Regions from separate parts of the Homo sapiens genome. Here region 1 is linked to region 2. A link means that fine-mapping ties the variant in region 2 to the expression of a gene that starts in the linked region. Tissue or cell type: thyroid. Region 2 holds a variant in brackets; the other region holds the start of a gene. All regions are shown on one strand. Distances are from middle to middle.

The links.
Region 1: it holds the start of RYR2, and the variant in region 2 is fine-mapped to the expression of RYR2 in thyroid (GTEx, PIP 0.93).

The regions. Positions count from the first base shown.
Region 1 is chr1:237,036,122-237,047,922 of GRCh38, forward strand. It overlaps RYR2 (ryanodine receptor 2), which reads left to right and starts at 6,063. Exons shown (of 105, transcript NM_001035.3): 1 at 6,063-6,448. The coding sequence starts at 6,401.
Region 2 is chr1:237,102,112-237,113,912 of GRCh38, forward strand. All of the region lies in intron 1 of RYR2 (ryanodine receptor 2), which reads left to right. Among named protein-coding and RNA genes, the nearest start is that of RYR2, 66 kb to the left of the region's middle. The variant T/G (reference allele first, on the strand shown) is at 6,728.

The DNA of each region.
Region 1 (11,801 bases), 66 kb before region 2:
TACCACCTCCACCTCTGCCTCCCAAGTAGCTGGGGCTACAGGCCCGAGCTACTCCTCCTGGCTTCTGCTTTGTATTTTTTGATAGCACTCAATGCACCTGACATATACATTTACTTGTTGGTATCTAGCTCCTCCCCTAGAATAAAAGCCCCATGAAGATAGGGCCAGTGCTTTATTTGCTAGGACAAAGCCTGGGACACACGCAATAAACGTTTGTCGAATGAACGAACGAATAAAGGGTTCAAAGAACCTGCTCATGTCCTGTTGTTCTGTGAATACCTAGAAGACATTAGAGATGGGTCTCATGCTGGGACAAACTCTATGGACACAAGCGTTTGGAGGTTACTTTTGTGTTACTGAACACAGCAAAGTGGTTAGCACCCTGCAGTTAAAGAATGAACTCCACATAGAGGAAGGGATAAAAAGAAGAAAGGTGTTTCAAAATGGAATTTTCTTAAAAGGAAAGTGAAAGTAGAAAGGTATCTACAAAATGGTAAACAAGCAGTTCATGACCATCAACAGAAAGGATCTTAATTATTACCCATAAAGAAAAGAAGTATAATAAAAAAGTAGACACATTTTCTCTGCCTCTATGCAGTAGTTATTGCATTTGAGGGACATTACCCTTAAACATACACCTACAGGCCTGGGCAATACAGGATCAAGGGCTGTGGTTCACAGGAGGGAGATACAATCTCTGGCCAGAGTAATCAAAGCCCAGAAGGGGGCTTTGAACTAGTCCTTGAAGCATGGAGTGGATTTCAGCAGGATTTTGTGGCCCTGGATGGCTAAAGAAATAGCAAAAGAAGAGGCACGGCTGAGTAGCTTTTTAATCTGCAGAACAGTAGTCTGGTTGGGAGGCAAAATGGGAATACTAGGAAAGAAATATTGAAAAGGTATGTTTAAGGCTATATCGTGGGGAGTCTCCAAAGCCAAGCTGAGGGGTTTGAACATAACCTGGAGGCATCTGGGGGCCACCTTTCAATGGTTCTAGTTCTTATTGGGCAAGGAAGTGACAAGATGAAAACATTATTATAGGGGGTGGTGCTGGTGGGAGTCAGGAAGATGATTTGCACTGGAAAAGCATAAGAAACAGGAAGATTAGTGATGATGTTAGTGAAATTACTCTGGGATATAAAGACAAGAATCAGGAAAATGCCTTTTACTTATAAAAAGACACTGATGTTCAGTGGGAAAGGTGAGAGAGGAATCAAAAATGGTGATCAGAGTTTGGATTCGAGCTGTAGTACAACAGAAATAGGCAAATCAGGAGGAAGATCTGCCTTCAGAGACACGTGACAGTCAGAATGACCTACTTGGGAAGCCACTAGGCAATTTGAGTTGGAAATGAGGCTGGGGAACCCACATTTCCTTAGGAACCCATACCTCCTGATCTGTAGGGGATACATTCCAAGACCCCAGGGGACGCTCAAAACCATGGATAGGACTGAACCCTATGTATGCTGTGTTTTTCCCCTATACATACAAACCTAGGTTTAAGTTTAGTTTATAAGAGGCACAGTAAGAGATGAACGATGATAACTAGTAATAAAATAGAACAATAATAACAATATGCCAGCATCACTACTCATGCACTTTGGAGTCATTATGAAGTAAAATAAGGGATACATGAACACAGGCACCATGATACCGCGATAGTCGATTTGATTATTGAAACAGCTACTGGCTAACGGTGGGGAGTACAGAAGAGTGGATGCGCTGGACAAAGGGATGATTCATGTCCCGAATGGGACAGAGTGAGATGGTACAAGGTTTCATCACGCTACTCAAACTGGCACACAATTAAAAATGTAGGAATTGTTTATTTCTAGAATTTTCCATTTTAAATTTTGGAACTTTGAGTAACTGGAACTGCAGAAAGCAAAGCTGTGGGTAAGAGGGGACTACAGTAATAAGCAAACTTTTCGTCGGGTGGGGACATCCTTCTCTGTGATGTCCAGGGCTCCTCCGATGCCAAGAGGTAGATCATGTGTACTTTTTCTATCTGCATGTAGTTCAGTCCTGACCCTGGAAATCAGAATACTAATTGTAGTTTGGGGCTTCATAATTTGGAAAGGAACTAATACGATAGTGGTGAATAACCTTCAAGTCTTGAAAAACTGATTTACCCTAAGAATCCAAACTGCGGAGAAAGGCACAAATTGGATATTATTTCTGAACACATAGTAATCTCTGTCTCTTTCCAGAACTTACTTGGCATTCCAAGAGCTAGCAGGACCTGCTTTGGCCTGAAACCAGGGACAGATCTCCCGGGGCTGCCAGAGCCTTTTATAGTTCATGCTAGTCTAGACTCTTTTTTGTGCTTTCCGCTTTGGGATGGAGGTAGGGGAGGAGTATAAGTCCTCGGACCCCTGTGTCAAAACTCAGCAGCTGCATACTCTTGGCCAAGCTACTTAACTTCTTTAAGTCTTCTTTCCTGTTTTTCAAAAATGATATTGCTGCGAAGACGAAAAGAAAAAATAAAATGCAAGTGCTCGGAGCATAGTAAATGCTCAATAAATGAAGTTTCATCACCATCGTCATCATTCGTAATGTAATTTCTGGCCATCTTGCATTAATGCAGAGATTCAGGCCATGTGACCTGAGGACTGGCTTGTGGTGAATTTCCCAGGGATTTATTTCTAGGACAGGTGCTCATAAGAATTATAGTATTTTAGAACACATGCAATAAGGATGTAAATAAAATGGAAATTTTGTAAAATGTTGGTCTGTTGAGTTCTGAAGTGGGATAAGAAGATAGGTATGAAATGTTCCTTAGAGATTTTGAAACAGGAAATCTGAGTTAACAAGAAATGGGCTAAATCTCAGGACGTTAGAGGCTCTCTAATCCTAATTTTATAATGATTCGATGACAATTCCAGAGGCTTTCAAGTCAGTAATAAAGCCTTTAATGTATGTAATCTTAATTGAAAGGAGCTGAATTAAAATGATAACATTGAGTATTTTGCTGAGTTTCCGTAGAAACCTTGAGGAAGAAGTTAATTTTTTAAGCTCATGTACATCATTGGGGAGCTTAGTAAATTGTAAGTCAAAATGAAAAAGCTTACATTTGTCCTAATTTTTTTCTTCTTTAAGGCTGTCTAGCATCCTGCCAAGTGAATAAGTGGGCTACGATGGCCCATTCTTAATTAGATGACTGCAGAAAAACTCTTAATTAAAAAAGCAAAAATATAATTTTTCCCTCTCTTGCAGAATATAAAATTAGTCATAAAGAAGAATACTTCCCAAATTTGGACTAAGAAACATAGAAATGTCATCCTCTAAACTTTTTATTAATAATTTTATGATTAATAAAGATTTAAAATGTAGTATCTATTGAATATAAAGATTATATTATAATAAAGCAATATTAAGATAATAAAAAGCAAAATAAGCTATTATACATAACACGAATTTAGAAAAAGAGAATTTTTTTTTTTTTTTGAGATCAGGTCTTGCTCTGTTACTAGGGTAGTGGCTTGATCATAGCTCACTGCAGCCTCAAACTCCTGGGCTCAAGCAATCCTCCTACCTCAACCTCCCAGTAGCTAGAACTACAGGTTTGTGCCACCATGCCTAGCTAATTAAAATTTTTTTTTTTTTTGGTAGAGATGAGGTCTCCATTGCCCAGGCTCGTTTTGAACTCCTGGCTTCAAGCAATCCTCCTGTTTTGGCCTCTCAAAGCACTGGGATAACAAGTGTGAGCCATTATGCCCAGCCAATAAATATTTTAATAAAAATTACAAAATATATAGATATCAAATACTATTTTCTAATGAAAATTGTAAATAATTTTTTTCTATTTAATGAACTATAGTTTTGTGCCTAGAAAAAGGTCTACTTGTTAATTTCTTTTAGTCTGAGTCTACAATAAGAATTAAATACAGTAAACATAAACTTTAAGCTGTATCCAAATTTTATGTATTTTTTCTCAAGTACACTTAAAATTGAGGTTAGTTAGTATCCTATGATCTCTGCACTGGAATTCTTACTACAATTGTCCACCAGAAGAAGAAACTAGGGAATTATAACTAAATTATCCAAAAGGGTTAAATTTTTTTTAAAAAAGCTATAAGTAAAAAGTTTCCATAGCTTTCACTGAAGTTGCTTTCTTGTAAAAATTATTTTGTTATGTAATTATGAAATATAACAGAATATCAGAGTACCAAAAATAATATTCCACCAATATGCCCATCACCAGTATTAAAACACTTGTTATATTTGCTTTGGTTTTCTTTTTAAAAATAAATGTTGTATATCATTCTCAAACATATTTTTATACTTTTAGAACAGACTAGAGATCTATAAACCTCATAGTTTTGTATTTTTGTGTTTTAAAGTCCACATACACGGTGTGTTTTATAAATAGTCTCTGCTCTATGTCTACTTGCTGTTGAAGACTGTATGGGGTGAATAAGAAACATCGAGTGTCTAGGCCTTTTAGCATTATTCCACTTACATTGAGAGAACTAAAGAAATAATAACCATAACTCTTGCTAGAACAGTTTACAGCCTAGTTAAAATGCCAAAATGAAGACGTGGTAAGCGTTTTTATATTATTTTACCTACCATCTGGGTAGAATGGAGTAATTAAGAAACCTGTCTCTGCATAGTTCTGAATAAAATAGTTTAAAACGTCAATTTGATACGTTCTAAATTTGGAAGATCAAATCATTTAACATTAAATCAGGAGCCAATTTCAGAATATAGTCATTGCTCATGGAGGACTCTTACCCGACTTTTTGGGAGCTCACTGGTTGTTCCTTTAGAGACTCGTAAGAGTAAACATTCACATAAATAATAACGGTTTAAGAGTTGGTTAGTCGTCATGGCTACAGGGATAGGTCAAGTTTTTAGGTAAGGTGACTGGTATACTTCCATGAGATAGGGCAGAACATTACTAGTTCTACCACGGACAGCGAGTATTTATACACATATTGTCATTCTCCTGGAAATTTACAAACCTACCCCAGTAAGTACAAAGTTAATGAATGCTAAAAATAAAATATAAACTGTATAGAACTCAGTGGTCGATTTTAATAATGAGTTAGATGCCGCAGAATGTAAGATGTAGGTAAACGGACGCAAAAATCCTTGTTTTACAATGTCTGCATCTCCGTAGTACTGACATTTGAAAACTTTACTTTGCACATACTTATTTTAAGTACGATAAATGAAAGCGCTGTGGACTAGGAACAAGAGACAAATTGCTTTCTTGTCCAAATTGTCTCAGACCCTGTATTTTCTTAGTCATAGCCGTTTGTTAAGTAGGCATTTGGTAGACTATTGCATGGAGGATTGCGAGAGCAAGATATTACTATCTGCGGTGGAATGCTCGAATTTCTTCTCTCAGCAAGGATAATGGGTAGCACAGTCTGACTTTAGACCCATCCAGTGGTTCAGACTTATAGATAGTATCCCATACTTTACCGCAATTCCTTGTTGAATTAAGGCTTGCACTTCGAATACAGACTACACACTTCTGGGTCTGTCTTGTACCACATTGTCTGGCATAGGCGCTCACTGTATATTTGTTGAATGTTAAAGTTCTGTGCACCAAAACCGTGCACTTTGCATCGATTATCTGCGAAAAGCATGGTACACTAAAACTAGATCTTGAAGAATTCCCATTTGATCATGAATAGAGGTAATCCACGTTTAAAATACCAGGTGTTGCGTAATCTCTACTTGGAGATTAGCCACCCCGTGCGCCCAGGTGAAAGATATCATTCTTCCGTGCGATCCGAAGTGCCGTGGAAGTTAGTGCCCTAGCCCAGTCCAGGAGGAAGGGGCGTCGTGCCGGCGGTTTTAAGCTCGGAAGGGGCAGGGGAATGAGCCCAGGGACCCCAGCGGGGCGCAGGTAGGAGGCTGTGCGCTCGCCGGGTGCGCTCCGGCCCCGATTCCCAGCGCAGCCAGTAAGTGGCGCTGGGCCTCGGGTTTGGCGGCCCGGAGGAGCGGGCTGCGGATTACCTGCAGCAGCGGGGAGCCGCCGAGCTCCTCCCCGCCCGCCCCCACACCCCACCCCCACCGCTGCACTAACCCCGGCTCAGCTGGCTCCGCGCACTTGCTCGGAGGAGCCGGGGCCGAGCGGACCGCCGGCTGCAGGCAGCGAGCGCGGCTGGGCTGCGGGGCTGCTTCCCCGCGTCCTCCGGGCCCGGGCCGCCCTCCTCCCGCACAGTGCGGAGCAGGGAGGCCCCGCGCCTCGACCACCCGCGCCCGAGCGTCCGCGCCTCCTCCTCCGCTCTGCAGGCGGGGACCGCCCGGCGCTCGGCACCCGGCAGCGCGGCCCCCTCCAGCCCCCGGCTCCCGGCAGCAGAAGCAGAAGGCAGCGCCAGGGGCCGCCGCCGCCGCCGAGCTCCGCGGGGCTCGGGAGCCGGCCCCGGCGAGGAGGCGCGGAACCATGGCCGATGGGGGCGAGGGCGAAGACGAGATCCAGTTCCTGCGAACTGTAAGCGCCGTGCGTCGCGTGTGCTGTCAGGGGAAGGGGGCGTCAGGGCATCCACTAGCGGGGTCCGGGCAGAGTGACAGCGGGCAGCGGGGACTCGCGGGCGGGGCGAGGGGGTGCCCCCTGAGGATGCGGGAGGAGCGGGCATCACCAAGTGTGTGCAGGTGTGCGTGTTGGGGCGAGGGAAGGCAAGGGCGCGTGTCTGTGCGCGCGTGTGGAAAGCTAGAGGATGGAGCGCGGCTAGCCGGCGGCAGGCGCCCGGGCTCGGACCCGGGGCACCGGGGACAGGAGCGTCGGAGCTGCGGGAACCGGGAGAGGAGGGGACGGCCGGTCCGGCCTGCCTGGTGGCACGGCTGGGACCTCCCGGGCGGCCGGGGGCAGGGTGCAGAGCAGGGTGGCCCGTGGGGGCGCGGGGAGCGGCGGGAACTCGGGCTGTTTCTGGGAATACCGCCGCCGGGAGGTTTCTTGGGCTTTCGGGCTGGACCCGCGCGTTGTCACGGAGCGAAGACGTTGGTTCGCTTACTCCGTGTAGCGTGCGGCGCAGCTGACCGGGGGCGGGGGTGATGGTGCAGGACGCTGCGCGGAGGTTTCCCCCAAGTCAAGGTGCTGCGAAAGCGGAGGAGGAGTCGCCTCCGTGGTCCCCGCGGTTCCCGGGGCTGGTGCCATCCGTGGTGGTGCTGTGACCGCTTGCAAAGCGTGGAAGGCATGGGAAGCGAGCGTGTGTTTGCGTGTGTGCGCGCGCGCGGGTGGTGGTGGGGAGAACATCGTGAACGTGTCGTTCTCTAAATGCTGGCTTATTGCATGCCAAGTGAAGCAAAGTGTGTGTGTGTAAGTGTAAGGGCAGGGTGGCTGCCCGGGAAAGGTTGGCTCCACACTAATACAATTCTTTCTCCTTAAGTACCTCTTGGCACTGCTCCTTCCTTTCTCTCATTTGTTCGAACACTGCAGATACTTCCCAGGCTGAGGCATTGCACACCTCCAAGCTGGGACTGGAGAGCCTCTCCAGAAAAGAAAATGCCCTAACTTCCTGCTAATAATAACCTAGTTAGCATCCTTTCAGTCGTTCCTTCTCCACTTCTGTCCTCCTTCCCGAAGGATGTTCCCTTGCAGGATTCCCCAGACTTCCCCAACCTAGAACTGCAGCTTCTGCTGGTACTTCTTTCCTCAGCAGTACAAAAACAAAACAAAACAAAACAAACAAACAAACAAAACCACTTCCCGGTTACAGTTACCTATAATCACAGAAAATCGTAGATACGGTGGAATTTTGGAATATTAACTTTTAGGTGTGAAAATAGTCTTGATGTATTTGGGTACTAAACATATGAAAACAGCGAATTTGCAAAGGAACGTTGTAAACGACTGTCTCTTTCTCTTTTGTGCATTAAACGGACTGGGAGAAAGCTTTGGGAAGGATAAAAACCCAGGGTCCACATCAGATGACAACCTAATAGTAATCCAGTCTAATAGCTGCAGGTTATGCACCATTGCATATGCTTTTTGAAGTACTGTTGGCCCAAGACCGGGCTTGGAAGAGCCTCTTCACTAATACCTTGGTCACGGTGTATAAACCTGCTAGTAATACAGTTGTCTTTTTCATAGAAAATAGACTATAAGGGTTTTTTTTTTTTTAAGTAATTAACACCACATTAGATTTTTCTCAAAACTAAGGACTATTTTATTCAGGTGGACAAATACGGTTGCTGTATAATTTTTCAATCAATTCGTATCAAACTCTGTGGGGTTAAAACTAGCTGGGACATTTTGGTAGGCTTCATGCACTCAAGGGCTTCCTGCGGGCTTAACTGTTAAGCCGAGCTCATGGAGGTGGTGTTATCAGAATGCTTAATGGGGACCGAGGGAACGTGCTGGCTGATGAGGTTCTGCACATATCAAGTAATGTCAACTCTGTGCCACTCAGCAGCTGCCTGTCAGCTAGAGCAGCACCTTTGATAAGTGGGTCCTGGGTAGAGATCTGGCAGTCCCAGGCTGGGATTTTTCTTTTAATAAAACATCCGTAGGTTGCTGTGCTGACGACAAATGACCTTGAAGGAGGTGACACAGTGGAGCAGGGGGATTTTTTTTTTTTTGGTATAGCATTAACATCTAAAAGGAAAACATGCCTTTCCTCACAATTTTCCAATTTTCATATGGAAATTCTCAAATCCTTTACCGGCTTCTCCACCCATTACCCTCCATCCTTCCCTCCCCCACCCCCCTTTTTTTTCTCTTAACCTGAGAATGTTGGTGGTTCAGAAATGCTGATGGGGTGAATAATGGGGAGACTGTAGTATAGTTCCCACATTGAAGTCGCTTCTTTTTTTTCTGAGGGCATTTATTTCTCTGTCATGTGCAAGCTTGTCAATATGAGTTATTTCTTCTTCTTCTTCTTTTTTTTTTTTTTTAAAGCAAATAGCCCAAGGAGTATTAGGAATCTGTACATCTTGATAAAACAGTTGTAGATGGAAGAATTCTTGATAGTGATGGATGAAGCTGTTTTGCATAGAAAAACAAAAACAGTCATTAAGACACCGTAATTGTGAATTTGATGGGACATTTCATATGTCCTGATTAGAACATCTGGATTATTATCTTGAGCAGGTCATTGTCTATTGGATTTGTATTCAGCACCCCAGCACATTGAGGCATCTTTTTGACCACTGTCCACAGAAAGCTTTTTTGCTTTTCTTTTTTTAGAAGAGGTGTGAGATCACTGTTAAGGGAAGTAGAGGTGAAATCTTTAATGGGCTGTATCTGTGAGTTATGTATGCTGCTGTAAATTAATTCCTCATTTGCAAAGGGGTTTGTCACTGTTTAGCTTGTACCTGTCTCTCTGGCATCTCTGTTCCATTTGCTGCTGCTTGTCGAGTTGGCTCACATTCCTTCCAAATAGTTATGTAGATGAATGATCATTGATTCAGTGGCTCCCCCATCTGTTGGAAACCTGCCCACTTGGGTCTGTTTATCTTTGAGAGAGATTGAAAATATGTTTTTGTAAACTCTGGATATGCTGGGACACTTATTTTATGAGAGAAAAATCCTATCATAAAATAAGCTGTCAGCTTGTAATGGATTCATTCACTGTCATATCCAAACATATCCATGATTTGGAATGTGTGTTTTATTTTAAAGATTTTATTAACTTACCAATGTAGCATCAAACTGTCATTTGGCATTTAAAAACACGCATCTTTTTCGTTATGGTCCTCTTTTTTTTTTTTTTTCCAACAATCATACAGAATGTTATAGAAGATATTCCTCTGACTTTAGGAAAACCATGGTATAAAATGACCTTGGTCAAGGTTTTTTTTTTTTTTTTTTTTTTTTTTGAGTACTTTGTCTTTCTTTCATTTGTCTAAGCACAGTTGAGTTACCCTTGTGGTGTACTGTGTCATGTAGTTTTGTATTTACCCATAGATTGAGACTTAAAGCTTAGTCCTGGCTGTAAGAATGATCCTGATAGGAATGCTTACGGTCTTCCTCCTGTCTTCTTTTGCAGAATGAAGTATTTCATTATAGATTTCTTCTCAGTGTTCATACATCTTGTTCCACAATGACAAGAAGCATCTTTAAATATACTCATCTACAAATGGTGACAATTATGCAGTATAGATGCTGGTGTACAACACTGCATAGTAGTTTGGATGGGAATACTTAGCCCTAGTTTGTAGAGGTCCAGGAAGGTTAATGGTATGAAGTCAGTACTCAGCAGTGCAGAACGAGGACTAAAATTCAAATCTTAGGCTAATAGTGTTCTTTCCAGGAGAGAAAGGCTTCTTTATCTGCTGTTCAAGTATGTTTTAGGTTTATAGCAAAAGAATACCAAGTCAGTTTTCTCAGCTGTAGGAATGTCACAGAGTACAAAGGAAAAGATGGAATGAGCAGTGGAAATTCGCACTTTTTGCTCCCTTCATAATGAAGCTACGAGGAGCTTTAGATAGATATGCACTATGGTATTTTCCCAAGGAACTGATGGAAAGCCCACCCAGGCTTACATCATCAGACTTATTTTATTTTAACTTAGAAATTAGCATGTACACATTGGCAGGAAGGGCAAGATCTAAAACGCTTAGGGCACTAATTTATTTGACATTCAATTGTATTTGTACTTTGGCTTCAGATAAGTGTTTTTATCACGGCTGAATTACCCAAGAAAGGACTCCAGCAGCACTGGGTGACTGTGCTTCTTTAGATAGCTTTCGGGAGAGAGGGAGAGGTGATGAAGCACACATTTTTCCTGAAACTCTGACATTGTGGGAATTAGATTAATTCAGAAAACATTTGTTGAACACCGTCTGTATGCATAGCATGTTAAGGAAGTATTCCAAATAAGTAGGGAAGTGGTTTGCAGCTGTAATTGCAAAGAATAGATATAGAGGATGGCATGGAGCAATCAGAAGGAAAAATGCATAAACAAACTCCAAAACATTAGGGTAGGAAGAGGCCTTTAGAAAACATTACCCTGTCCACCCCATGCCTCTCTGATATTGCAGATAAGGAAACAAAAGCTCAGAAAGCCAAATGACTTGGCCCAGTGTCACACTCCAAGTTAGTGGCATTTAGTAATGGAGAGTATATGAAAATCTGTGAAGAATTTCCAGAAAGGAGGTTTACCAGCACATCATTCTTTATAGAGTAGATTTAAACCCACTTTTCCATTTTATCCTTAACTTGACCTTCATAGAGTTCTGTCTCCAAATCTGTCCTCTTGTCCTTCCAGCCAGTGAAAAGGAGGTTTCTTTTGTCTTTTCTAATGTTACAGTCCCTCACATGGCCTGAATCTTGGTCCTGGAAGCCAAGATTGGAATCCATCCTTTCTAGCCTTTTTTTTTTTTTTTTTGCCTCCCTATCCACTTACTCCTTCTGGTTTATCTTGAAGCCTGTTAATTTCTCCCATCTTAAAATGTCTGTCTTTGACCCGGATACCTTATTTGGTTGCTCCCCTCCTGCAGAAGTGGTCTTCTCCCACTGCTTGTACCCCTCTCCATGTAATTATCTAGCTTCTCTTCCTTCTTCAATTTACTTTCCAGGATGTTGCCAGTAACTCCCTCCTTGCCACGTCTAAATGTCCCTCTCTGTCCCTATTCCCTTAGATTCCTTCTCAAGCTCTACTACCCTGACTTTCCTTTTTGAAGCTACTCTTTTGACTTTGGGGACATGGTACCTTCTGGGTAATTTTTTACATTTCTGATCATGCTTTTTCCAGGTGCTTTTCATTCCTTTTACTCCAAGTGTGTGGTTATCCCAAAAGATTCTGTCCTATTTCCTGTTCTGGCTCTTCTGCCTTCATGAGCTTATCTATGTCACAAAATCTGGGATCTCTTGAATAACAGAGTCTGAAAAGACTTAACAATGA
Region 2 (11,801 bases):
TGGTGTGTGAAGGCTTCGTGGTAGACTGGGGCTGAGATGAGCCCCTAGGAAGGACCAGGATTTAGACGGGAGCTTGAGGAACAGGACAGACAGGTGGGGGGAGTGCTCCAAGGGAGCAAGGGATAGAGAGGGAGTAGATCAGTCTGCCTGGAGTTGAGGCTTTGTTTACAGGCGAGGTGCTGGTGAGGGTGGTGGAGAGGCATCCAGGAAGGTTGAAAATATATTTCTGTAGCCACCTGCCATCCTGCATGCAGGCACACACACATACACAGCAGCCGTCCTCTTGTTGAATGCCTCTTCTCACTAAATACAGATACATCCATGAGGCTTACACTTACTGCTCATTTAGTAAAGTAGTAAAGTCACAGTGGGAGCCCGGGAATCAGGAAATAAACACTCAGATGTTTTCCTTCTAGTTTTGATCAGCTGCCCTGAGAGAATGAGATTTTAAAATAATTTGACAGGCCGGCATGGTGGCTAACGCCTGTAATCCCAGCACTTCGGGAGGCTGAGGAGTGTGGATCACTTGAGGTCAGGAGTTCGAGACCAGCCTGGCCAACATTGTGAAACCCCTTCTCTACTAAAAATACAAAAATTAGCTGGGCATGGTGGTGTGCACTTGTAATCCCGCTACTCGGGAGGCTGAGGCAGGAGAATCGCTTGAACCTGGGAGGTGGAGGTTGCAGTGAGCCAAGATGGCACCCCTGCACTCCAGCCTGGGCAACAGAGCAAGACTCCATCTAAAAAAATAATAATAATTTGATAGAGAAAATTTTTGTTTTATTATAAAATACACGTATAAAACTTATCAAAACCATTTAAAACGATACAGTTCAGTCGTGTTAAGTATATGCACACCGTTGTGCAACAAATCTCCGAACAGTTTCATCTTATGAAACAGAAACTCCACGAAAAACAACCAAGAACAGTTTTATTTGAACCCAAGGGTACTTTCTGGGATGGAAAAGCTGGGAGCTCAATCTTGGATATTATAGTACTGTGGAGCTGGGATTATGGATGTCTGAGGCCAGTAGGAGCTCTGAGGCCATCCAAGATAGATGTGTCCATTGGAAATTGGGCTTAGAGTTAGAAACTGCTAAGTGGACATTATTTTAAAATTTATTTTGGATATTCAGCTTCCGAACACTGTCCTACGTTTGGGAACCTCACTGTTGCGTGAGTCATGGCATCACCTACAACGGAAGCTGAAAAGGTCAGTACCTGCTTTCTCCATATCCTGCTGCCCAGGGCATGCAACTTGACCTTAGCACAACCAATCCTCCTGTAGCCTGGTACTTTGAACCTGAAGTAAGCAACGTGAAGAACAGGGGACAGGTTAGGGCTACCTCAGGTGTTGGTGCTGAATTATCGTAACTGCTTCTGTGTGTGTCTGGGCCGTGGGCCTTCTGACCACCACCTTCCTTTGGTTTCTGCCCATTTTCCAGGCTACATTGTCCAGTGTCCCTGTTTTTTTGAGACAGAATTTCACTCTTGTTGCCCAGGCTGGAGTGCAATGCCATGATCTCGGCTCACTGCAACATCCACCTGCCAGATTCAAGTGATTCTCCTGCCTCAGCCTCCCGAGTAGCTGGGATTACAGGTGTGTGCCACCACATCTGGCTAATTTTAGTATTTTTAGTAGAGACAGGGTTTTACCATGTTGGCCAGGCTGGTCTCGAACTCCTGACTTCAGGTGGTCCACCCGCCTCGGCCTCCCAAAGTGTTGGGATTACAGGCGTGAGCCACCGCGGCCAGCCCCTGTCAATTCTTTGAACACCTGTTAGCTAGCATTCCAACTTGGTTGGTTTCTGTCATTTGCAACCGAGAATTCTGTCTCTTTTGTCTGGTTGTCTCTCTGTGGTCACCATGCCTTTATCAGTCTGTGTCATCCCGGGCTGAAGTTCCTCACGTGATATTTAGTTGCTTGTGGCCAAAACCCGCCTTCACTGCAAATGCATCGGTTCCTCATCATTTCTCCTCTGGACCAGCAAGGGGCTTTCCTCTCGCCCATCCATCTCCCACCTTTTCGTTTTGTAGGTAGAACCTGGAGGGAGCGGCAGTAATTCATCATCCATGGAACGTGCCTGTCTGTGGCCTGGACCTGTGGGATTTGGCCGGCGTTCCCTTTGCATTACATTTGGTACTTGGAAGCAAGCATCCCTCAGTAGGGACAAGGCTCCAGCTGTCCCTTTCATTAGGGCCCTGCCAAGGACGTTTCCTTTGTTCAGCACCTCCTCCTGCCTGCCCTTAGGACCATCTTCCAAAAAACTCTGCTCTGCCCTCACCCGCTGCTGTCCCCTCCCACCTGTAAGACCAGGCCAGCTCAGCACCTTTCCCTGTCTCCTTGTCTAGCACTGCTGCTTCTGTGTGATGCTCCGGCATGGTGAGTTGACCAACACCATCGCTTAAATGTGCTGTGCCTTTTACAATTATGTGGCTTTGCAGGTGCTGTTCCCTTGCCTTTTTTTCTTTGCCCGGCAAATTCTACTGGTTTGTCAGTCACTTCTCCTTTCTGATAGCCTTTGTGACTCTCCCAGCTGTTACTGGGTCCTGGTCACCCTCTAGGGCCTTGTGTAAACCTTTCTTTCAGGTTTTACCCAGGGCACTGTACTTACTTGTATATGTACTTCTCTCCCCGCCTAGACCCCCATCTCCCTACGGATAGGAAAGGAGTCTCCTCCTCATCTTTGTACCGAGTTTGCAAGCACAGTGCCTGTGCGTGGCAGGCCCTCTGTACCTGTTGACTATCGTGCAGTGGAGATTCAAGCTGGCTGATCTGTGCCTGGTGCTTAATGGCTGTGATGAGTTTGCCACATTCCCTTCTCCCTCGAGGTCTTCTCAACGGTCTGATGGTAATGCTGGGAATTTCAGGCTTTCTGGCAGACTGTCAGGGAGAAATTTCAGTGCAGAAAGGCCTTCTAGAACCTCACGAATAAGGGGTGCTGCTCACATCTTGTGAGTCCTCCCCCTTCCTGACATGAGTCTCAGTGCCGGCAAACACGGCTGGTTGAACCCTGAGCTAGCCCAGCTGCTTTGTTCACCTTACGTTTGGGGAAGGCTGAAATTTTATTGAGCACCGACTGTATTCCACACACTCTTCTAGGTGCCCGAAATATGCTGTTAAACAAATACTCAGCCCTCATGGGGCTGAGAGTCTGGTGGGGAAGACCTGTTGAAAAACAATCATATTAAATGAATTGCATTGCATGTTAGAAGATCGTAAGTACTCTGGGGGAAAATGAGAGTAGAACAGGATAAGGGGGTGATGGAGGGAATGAGTGGTGATTTTAAATGTAGTTATCAGGCTGGGCACAATGGCTTACACCTGTAATCCCAGCATTTTGGAAGGCCAAGACGGGCAGGTCACTTGAAGTCAGGAGTTTGAGACCAGCCTGGCCAACATGGTGAAAACCTGTCTCTACTAAAAATACAAAAATTAGCTGGGCACAGTGGCTCATGCCTGTAATCCCAGCACTTCGGGAGGCTGAGACGGACAGATCACTTGAGGTCAGGAGATCGAGACCAGCCTGGTCAACATGGTAAAACACTGTCCCTACTAAAAATACAGAAATTAGCCAGCAATACAAAAATTGGCAGCTGTAGTCCCAACTACTTGGGAGGCTGAAGCACAAGAATCGCTTGAACCCAGGAGGTGGGAGGTTGCAGTGAGCTGAGATTGCGCCACTGCACTCCAGCCTGGGCGACAAAGCGAGACTCTGTCTCAAAAAAAAAAAAAAAAAAAAAAAATCCAAACAAAAAACATAGTTATCAGAGTGGGTCTCTTTGAGATAGTAGCAGTTGAGCAGCTTGAAGATAGCAGGGGAGTTAGTTCATGGGCTTCCAGGCAGAGGGAGCAGCCAGTGCCAGCACCAACGTGGGAGTGTGCCTGGAGACTCTAAGGAACAGAGTGTGCAGCAGGACTGGGGCACAGTGGTGGGGAGGCCAGAGGGGCTGCGGGTGTGGGCCGGGCAGGTGGAGGAGGCCTTGAGGGCTGTTGAGAGGACTGGGCTCTTGCTATTACTTTTAGCCATATGGGAGTCATTGCAATCCTTTGAGCTGAGGGGTAGCTCGTTCTGATTTTCATTCTGAAAAGACCCGTCTGGCCACTGTGTTGAGAATAGATGTTCCTGGTAAACAGGGGTGGGCAGGGAGAACAGCTCCCCTGCACCAGCTCCCGCTGGGCTGCAGACAGGCTCTGATGTGGCTTGCAGCACGGTGGCAGCAGGGGGAGGTGGCACCGAGCAGCAGGACCCTGGATATTTTTTTGGACATAGAGCCAGGAGGATTTCCTCATGGTTCTGATGAGGGTTGAGAGAGAGAAGGGGAGTCCGGATCATCCCAAGGTTTCTGGCAGACAGATGATGTTTCACCAGCTAAGATGGAGCGGTCCTGGAAAGAGTGAAGATCAAGAGTTTCATTCTGGAAATGTGGGGGTTTTCGCTGTCTGTCAGAGAGTCGTGGAGCTGCTGGGAGGTGGTTAGTGTGGACTTCTGGAGAGAGGGCTGAAACTGTCCTTGAAAAAATGGATTTCTCAGTGTGATGTGTATACAGTGTCCCTTTTTCAGACATGGCACCTTCGTCCATTTGGGCTGCTATAACAAAATGCCATGGACTGGGAGGCTTAGAAACCACAGAAATTATTCCTCACAGTTCTGGATGCTGGGAAGCCCAAGATCAGAGTGCCAGCAATTTGGTGTCTGGTGAAGGCTCGCTTCCTGGTTCATAGGCGGCTGTCTTCTTGCTGTGTTGTCACGTGTAGAAGGGACAAAGGAGCTCTCTGAAGTCCCTTTGTAAAGGGCAGTAATCACCTCCCAAGGCCCCGCCTCCTAATGCCATTACATTTGGGGTTAAGATTTTAACATATGATTTTGGGGGGACTGAGGGACATAAACATTTAGTCTGTAACACAAAGGGAGGTTAATTTGGATTAAGAAATCTAAGGCCATATGGGGGAAATAAAAGGCTGGAGGGCTAAAGAAGGATGAACCAATAAAAGTCTTATAAGCATTATTATGTTTACTAAAATAAAATAGACCAACACATTAAACAATGACATCAAAACATCAATGGACAACATATACTTTATATATCTTAACTTAGAAGTTATAGATGCTGTACTATGAGCCCCACTTAGGAGTTCTTGCTTAATAGAAAACATTGTAGGTTCTGGGAGGCTGAGGCGGGCGGATCACGAGGTCAGGAGATCGAGACCATCCTGGCTAACACGGTGAAACCCCGTCTCTACTAAAAATACAAAAAATTAGCTGGACGTGGTGGCGGGCGCCTGTAGTCCCAGCTACTCAGGAGGCTGAGGCAGGAGAATGGCGTGAACCCAGAGGTGGAGTTTGCAGTGAGCCGAGATCGCACCACTGCACTCCAGCCTGGGAGACAGAGTGAGACTCCATCTCAAAAAAAAAAAAAAAAAGGAAACATTGTAGGTTCTCACTTCTCTGCAGCTTTAGTTTTACCAAGTTGCTTTTACATTTACCTTGCTCTATTATAGGTAATAGATGTGAAGCTTCCGATTCCTGGCTCAGAGTTGGTGACTTCCATCTCCCGTGGAAGATGCCTCTGAGTCCACTCAGGATCTTGTGTGGTCACAAAGGTGTAGGAAACGTCTGGACACTTGAGGTGGAAGATGCTTTGGGGCATTCCCTTCCAGATTCACGGTGTCCTGCAGCCTTAGTTCTTTCCAGAAGCACGTCACACGTGTGGCATCCACCTCCCCTGCACAGGCTGGGCTCCTCCCTCCTTCCCTGGGGTTCCCCTGGGCTTCACATGCCCTCATCTTCCTTTATTTTTCTTGAGGCATTGTTGAAAAGCCTCTACTCCTTTGTGGGGCTGTTTTACCTCCTGGTAAAAAGGTTCCGGTCCTGAGCTCACGGTTTCTCTCATGTCCCCTGTGGGAGTAATTAGAGCTAACCTTCCTGGTGGTGCTGGAAACCTCTGTGGAAGCTGGTTCATGTATGCCTCAACTTTGCATAACAGGGAACATGATCCTAGAATATTCTTTAGGGTAGCATTTCCCAAATTTTCCAGGGAATAAGAATCTCCTGGGCTCCTTGCCTAAGCATCAAGCACTGATTTAGACTTAGCGACCCAGAACCTCCAGGAGAGGGGCCTGGGAATCTGGGTTGTGAGGCTACACCTGTTGGAGGGATCGGAGGGGCCCAGTATATGATACTCCCCTTTCCTGCCCAGCTTCTGAATGAATTGAGACAAAAACAATGACTAGGACAAATGAGAGGTCAAAATGTCCTCATAGAGGCTTGGCTGGAGGATGCTGCGTTAAGTCAGCTAGCCCAGTAGGCCTGCTAATTGAATTCCTGGAATGAGGCTGATGTACCGCAGAGGCCTCCCTGGGAGCAGGGCCGCTGGAGCAGCAACAGAACCTTGCAGCCTGCAGAAGCTCACAACCAAAACAGAGAACAGGGCTGAGCTGCGCTGAGCAGAGCTCTGGGATTCTCTTAAATCTATCAGTCGAAATTATTTCTCCTGAGGCACATAGGAAGTAGAGAGGGCTGAGAGAGGCCGGGAGTGTGTAGGGGCGTGGAGGCTGCAGGGTGGAGGAGAGTCCCTCCTCCTGGCAATCAGGAATGGGAAAAAGCATCTCTTTTACACACCCCAGGTGATTTGCATGATCAGGAAAGTCTGGGAAGTGGGTCTTAGGAAGCCTGCAATGTTGTCTCTTGTCTGTGCTTTCCACCAGCGTTCCAGTTTTGCACTT[T/G]TGGTATTTCTGAGCAAGCTCAGCTTCTGTGTTTTGGGGTACTGGCTCCTAAGAGCAGCTGGGTGTGTGATTAGACAAGGAACTGCTTCACTAGTTTATTTTCATTGTGAGCACACTTCAATATCACTCTTTACATGAACATGAGCAAATGGGTTTAATTTTGAAGTCAGGGCTTGGGATTCTTGCCTTTGTGTCTATGTATATGTGTGTTCAACAGAATAACCAGTGTGAAACCTAACCTAGCCGAACATAACCGGAATAACCAGGGTAAAACCTAACCATCTGTGTATATATTCACAAATACATACATAAATGTGTATATATAAAATACATATATACATATACATATGTAAAATACATATATGTATATATAAAATATATGTATTTTATTTTGAAATAATTACAGTCATAGGTTGCAAAGAAAAATGTACAGGGAAGTCCCATGAATGCTTCCAGTTTATATTTTTTGAAATTGAGAAATATAATCTTAGAAGATGGTAAAGCTGGTTTTTTTTTTAAGTTGGCAAAGAATATGCAGTTAAATTCAGGCATGGAGAGAAAATTGCTTTGAAAGGAAGATTTTTTGCATTGACTTTTGTGTGTGACATTAGCTGTCTGTTTTGGAAAATCTAAGAGCAATATCTGATTATCTATGCTTTCCATCCCTAAAACCACCAACACATAGAGGCTACTGAATCTCCCGAAGGGCCTCGGTGATGGGCCTGGGCAGGAGGAGGCCCCTGCAGCCTGTGGGTGGTGCATGGGCAGCATCTCCTCTCTGCAGTGTCCTGCAGCAGCAGTGCAATGTGATTGATTTCAGAAATTTAAAAAATATTTGCTGACACTGCACTCCAGCCTGGGCGACAGAGCGAGACTCCGTCTCAAAAAAAAAAATAATAATAATAATTTCCTGGGATAGGTAGGGGAAACGGAAATTTACATGATTGCCAACCTGACTACTGATATTTTCCAAGGAAGATTACCTCTGTGAGGGCCTTTTTGCTTTAAATGTCACCTTCATGGTGTTCAGCAATGTTCACTGAGCGTATGACCTGGCTTTGTGCACCGAGAAAACTGCCCAAAATAACAGGTGCCACAGCTTGGTCACAAGACAGACACAGGGCCAGTAAGGTGCTGTCAGTTGTACCCCCTATGCTAAGCTGTGAAATTCTAATCCCCCGGCCCCACTTTCTAACCGTGGAAATGTTGGGTTGTGCCATATCCTGGTATGAATTTTCTTTGTGGAATGATAGGCCCATAGAGTTAAGTTTTCTCTACTGCTGACTTTTACTCACTTAATTTTTACTCAAGTTCTTAAACTTGAGTGTGCATCTGAATCCCCTGGAAAGCTTGTTAAAACGCAGATTGCTGGGCTCTGGCCCCAGAGTTTCTGATTAGGTGGGTCTGAGGTGGGGCCTGAAAATGGGCATTTTTTTTTTCTTTTTTTAAAAGTTTTAGGGTACATGTGCACAATGTGCAGGTTAGTTACATATGTATACATGTGTCATGCTGGTGTGCTGCACCCATTAACTCGTCATTTAGCATTAGGTATATCTCCTAATGCTATCCCTCCCCCCTCCCCCCATCCCACAACAGTCCCCGAAGTGTGATGTTCCCCTTCCTGTGTCCATGTGTTCTCATTGTTCAATTCCCACCTATGAGTGAGAACATGCGGTGTATGGTTTTTTGTCCTTTCGATAGTTTGCTGAGAATGATGGTTTCCAGTTTCATCCACGTCCCTAAGTTCCCAAGGGATGCTGATGCCTCTGGTTTGGAGTCTGCACTTTGAGAACTCTCGCTCTAGGCAAAGCTGGCAAATTTGTCTCAGGTAGGGGCACACCTGCTATCTTCCAGGTAGGCACTGTTCCTCTACTCTTCTGCGTCATCTCAGCTTCATTTCTCCCTCGGGGTACCAATGCTCTGAAACCTCCTGCTGTGGACTGAAACATTCTCTTTGGTTAATTCAAACTGAAATATTCTATTTGGCATCAACTAACATTTGCATATTTCTGGGGGACCAGCCACTTTGCTGCAAGGTGCTTGTATTTGTTATTTAATCTCTACCACAACCCTGTGAGGTCAATTGTGAAGTCCCCCTTTAATGAGACTCAAGAATTCAATGACATTTTCAAGGTCAAGCACGATGCCAGGTCTCAGGCTTGGAGCCTCTGGTACTGGGCCACTGGTCTTCCTTCTCTCTAGCTTCAACATCCTTCTGAAGAGCAATTGGGTCCTTTGTGAGGATGCTTCGAGGTTGGACCAAGTAAATGAATATCTGTTTGGTAACATTGTTGACACTGCTGTATCGAGCTGCTCTAAGAAAGGGAAACATTTTTGGTTCAGAGGACATTCACAGCACTGTGCTTGTTGGAGTATTTGTACCATTGCCTCTTCCAACAGTTACATTTTGCTCTTCTTTCCCTCAAGAGTAGAAGAGGGTGGAGAAGAGGAAATGATTATAATTCATTCCTTTCCCCTCCCTGCCAATTTCTCACAATACCCTTATTGGGAGGCCAAGGCAGGTGGATCACTTGAGGTCAGGAGTTCAAGACCAGCCTGGCCAACATGGCGAAACCCTGTCTCTACCAAAAATACAAAAATTAGCCGGGCGCGGTGGCAGGTGCCTGTTGTCCCAGCTACTCAGGAGACTGTGGGAGGAGAATCGCTTGAACCTGGGAGGCGGAGGTTGCAGTGAGCTGAGGTCGTGCCGCTGCACTCTAGCCTGGGTGACAGAATGAGACTCCGTCTCTTTAAAAAAAAAAAAAAAAAAAAAAGGCACATTTGAAGTTCTGAGTGTGAAGTGTGCTTCAGGATAGTAAATGGAAATGGCAAAAGAAAATATCCAGTGGAAATCTTTGCCATCTTTGGGATTCTCTTTAGTTTTTGCTCATTTTTGCCTATCCTGCAAGGGTAACAGAAAGCTCTGAGATTTGGAGGTCAGACAAACCTGTCTGGCTCCTGCCCTGATTCTGCTCCTTGAGGGTTCTAGTGCAGGGAGGACCTCTGGCAAGTTGGAGGATTGTACCTCTCTGAGCTAGAGAACTGGCAGAAGGACAAAATGTAATTTACTCCACTGTAAGCCCTTGGAAAGCAGGTACCTTGTCTGTTTGGCACCCCAGTGGCAGCCCATGCCCAGCAGCTGTCATTGGTTGGGGGTGGGTGGTGGGTGAGTGCACCCTAGTGGGTAGTTGGAGGATTAAATGAGATAGTATGCAAATAGAGGAGAGTAGGTAAGTTCCCCCTCCATCACTGGATGTTTTTGCTACTTCCCCTACTCTTTTGTTTGTTTGTTTGAGATGGAGTTTTGCTTTTGTTGTCCAGGCTAGGTGCAACGGTGCAATCTCAACACACTGTGACCTCCGCTTCCCGGGTTCAAGCGATTCTCCTGCCTCAGCCTCCTGAGTAGCTGGGATTACAAGCGTCCACCACCACGCCTGGCTAATTTTTTGTATTTTAGTAGAGATGGGGTTTCACCATGTTGGTCAGGCTGGTCTCGAACTCCTGACCTCAGGTGATCCGCCCGCCTCGGCCTCCCAGAGTGCTGGGATTACAGGCGTGAGCCACCGTGCCCGGCCCCCTCCTCTCTTTTTATCTCTCTGCTCTTTAGTTAGCTGGCCTCATGATTCCCATTTTTATTTTGTTTACCTTTTCTGTTAAAGAAATTTTTGCCCAGGCTACCCTTTAGGCAGGGAGGAGAACTTCCCCCTACCTCTTCTTTCTAAGCTACAACATCAAAAAAAAAAAAAAAAAAATTAGCTAATGGCTCTCCCCTTCCAGGCAAATTTCTAGGATTAAACGACTTGATGCTTTTTTGCTCTGATCCAGGCCCACCTTTCCAGCCCACATATAGTAATAATTATGGTTTTATGTTTTTAGGGCTCCACTTTTGTTTGATTTATCTCCCCATGAGGATGTAAGCCTCTTAGGAATGGGGATCATGATTCTTCCTGACTTTTAAAATAACAACTGTTTCTGGCTCCTATTTGGTTTATGCTCCATCATGTAATTTGCTGTCATTCTTGTATTCAGCTGATTTATCCTTAATCCTGTATCTCGGTTGTTTGCTTTTTTATCCCTAAGTGCCCTACCTTGCAGAGCCCTGGCGTCATATAACTATTTATTAAATAAGCTTCACGGAACCTCAACGGGGACTCTGTTCACATGTACCAGCAGTGTGCTCCTTCTCCTTTCTGCATCCAAGACATGATCCTCAGTAGGAATTGAGAACAAAACCCAGCTCTTTAGCCAAAAATGGTTTCTGAGGTTCGGTTTTCATAAATTCAGAAAGGGGGCTTTTTTCCCCTCCATCTGGCCATAGGATATTGTTGGCCTCTCTTTTATTTATTTTATTTTATTTTTATTTTTATTTTTATTTTTTGAGATGGAATCTCACTCTGTCGCCCAGACTGGGGTGCAGTGGCATGATCTCGGCTCACTGTAACCTCTGCCTCCTGGGTTCAAGCAATTCTCCTGCCTCAGCCCCCTGAGTAGCTGGGATTACAGGTGTGCGCCACCATGCTTGGCTAATTTTTTTGTATTTTTAGTAGAGATGAGTTTTCACCATGTTGACCAGGCTGGTCTCGAACTCCTGACCTCAGATGATCCACCTGCCTCAGCCTCCAAAGTACTGAGATTACAGGCATGAGCCATCGTGTCCAGCCGGCCTCTCTTTTAGAAGACTCTGTCCCATTGTCCTTTAAGGGCATGTCACTTCCCTGGAGGTCAAAATCATGTCATACTAGTTTTTGCAATCCACAGCTCCTTGCACAATTCCTGGCCCAGGGAGTGGGTACATCATCAATGTGTGAGGAACAGACTGCCATGAAATAGTGTAAAAAATCCACATAGTACACTTGTGAGAAAAGAGATAAGAACCAGAATTTTCCAAGCAAAGGGATAGAGAGCTACAAGGTGGAATTCAGCAGGCTCACACCTATTGGGTGTTAGAGAGATGAACTTAGATCACATTTATTTAAACATCTCTGAGTGCAGTATTTTTAAAGATCACACAAGAATAAAACTGTAGCACTGAACTTTTCTTTAAGTGTTGAAGTGAAGGAAATGAAGAACTCAG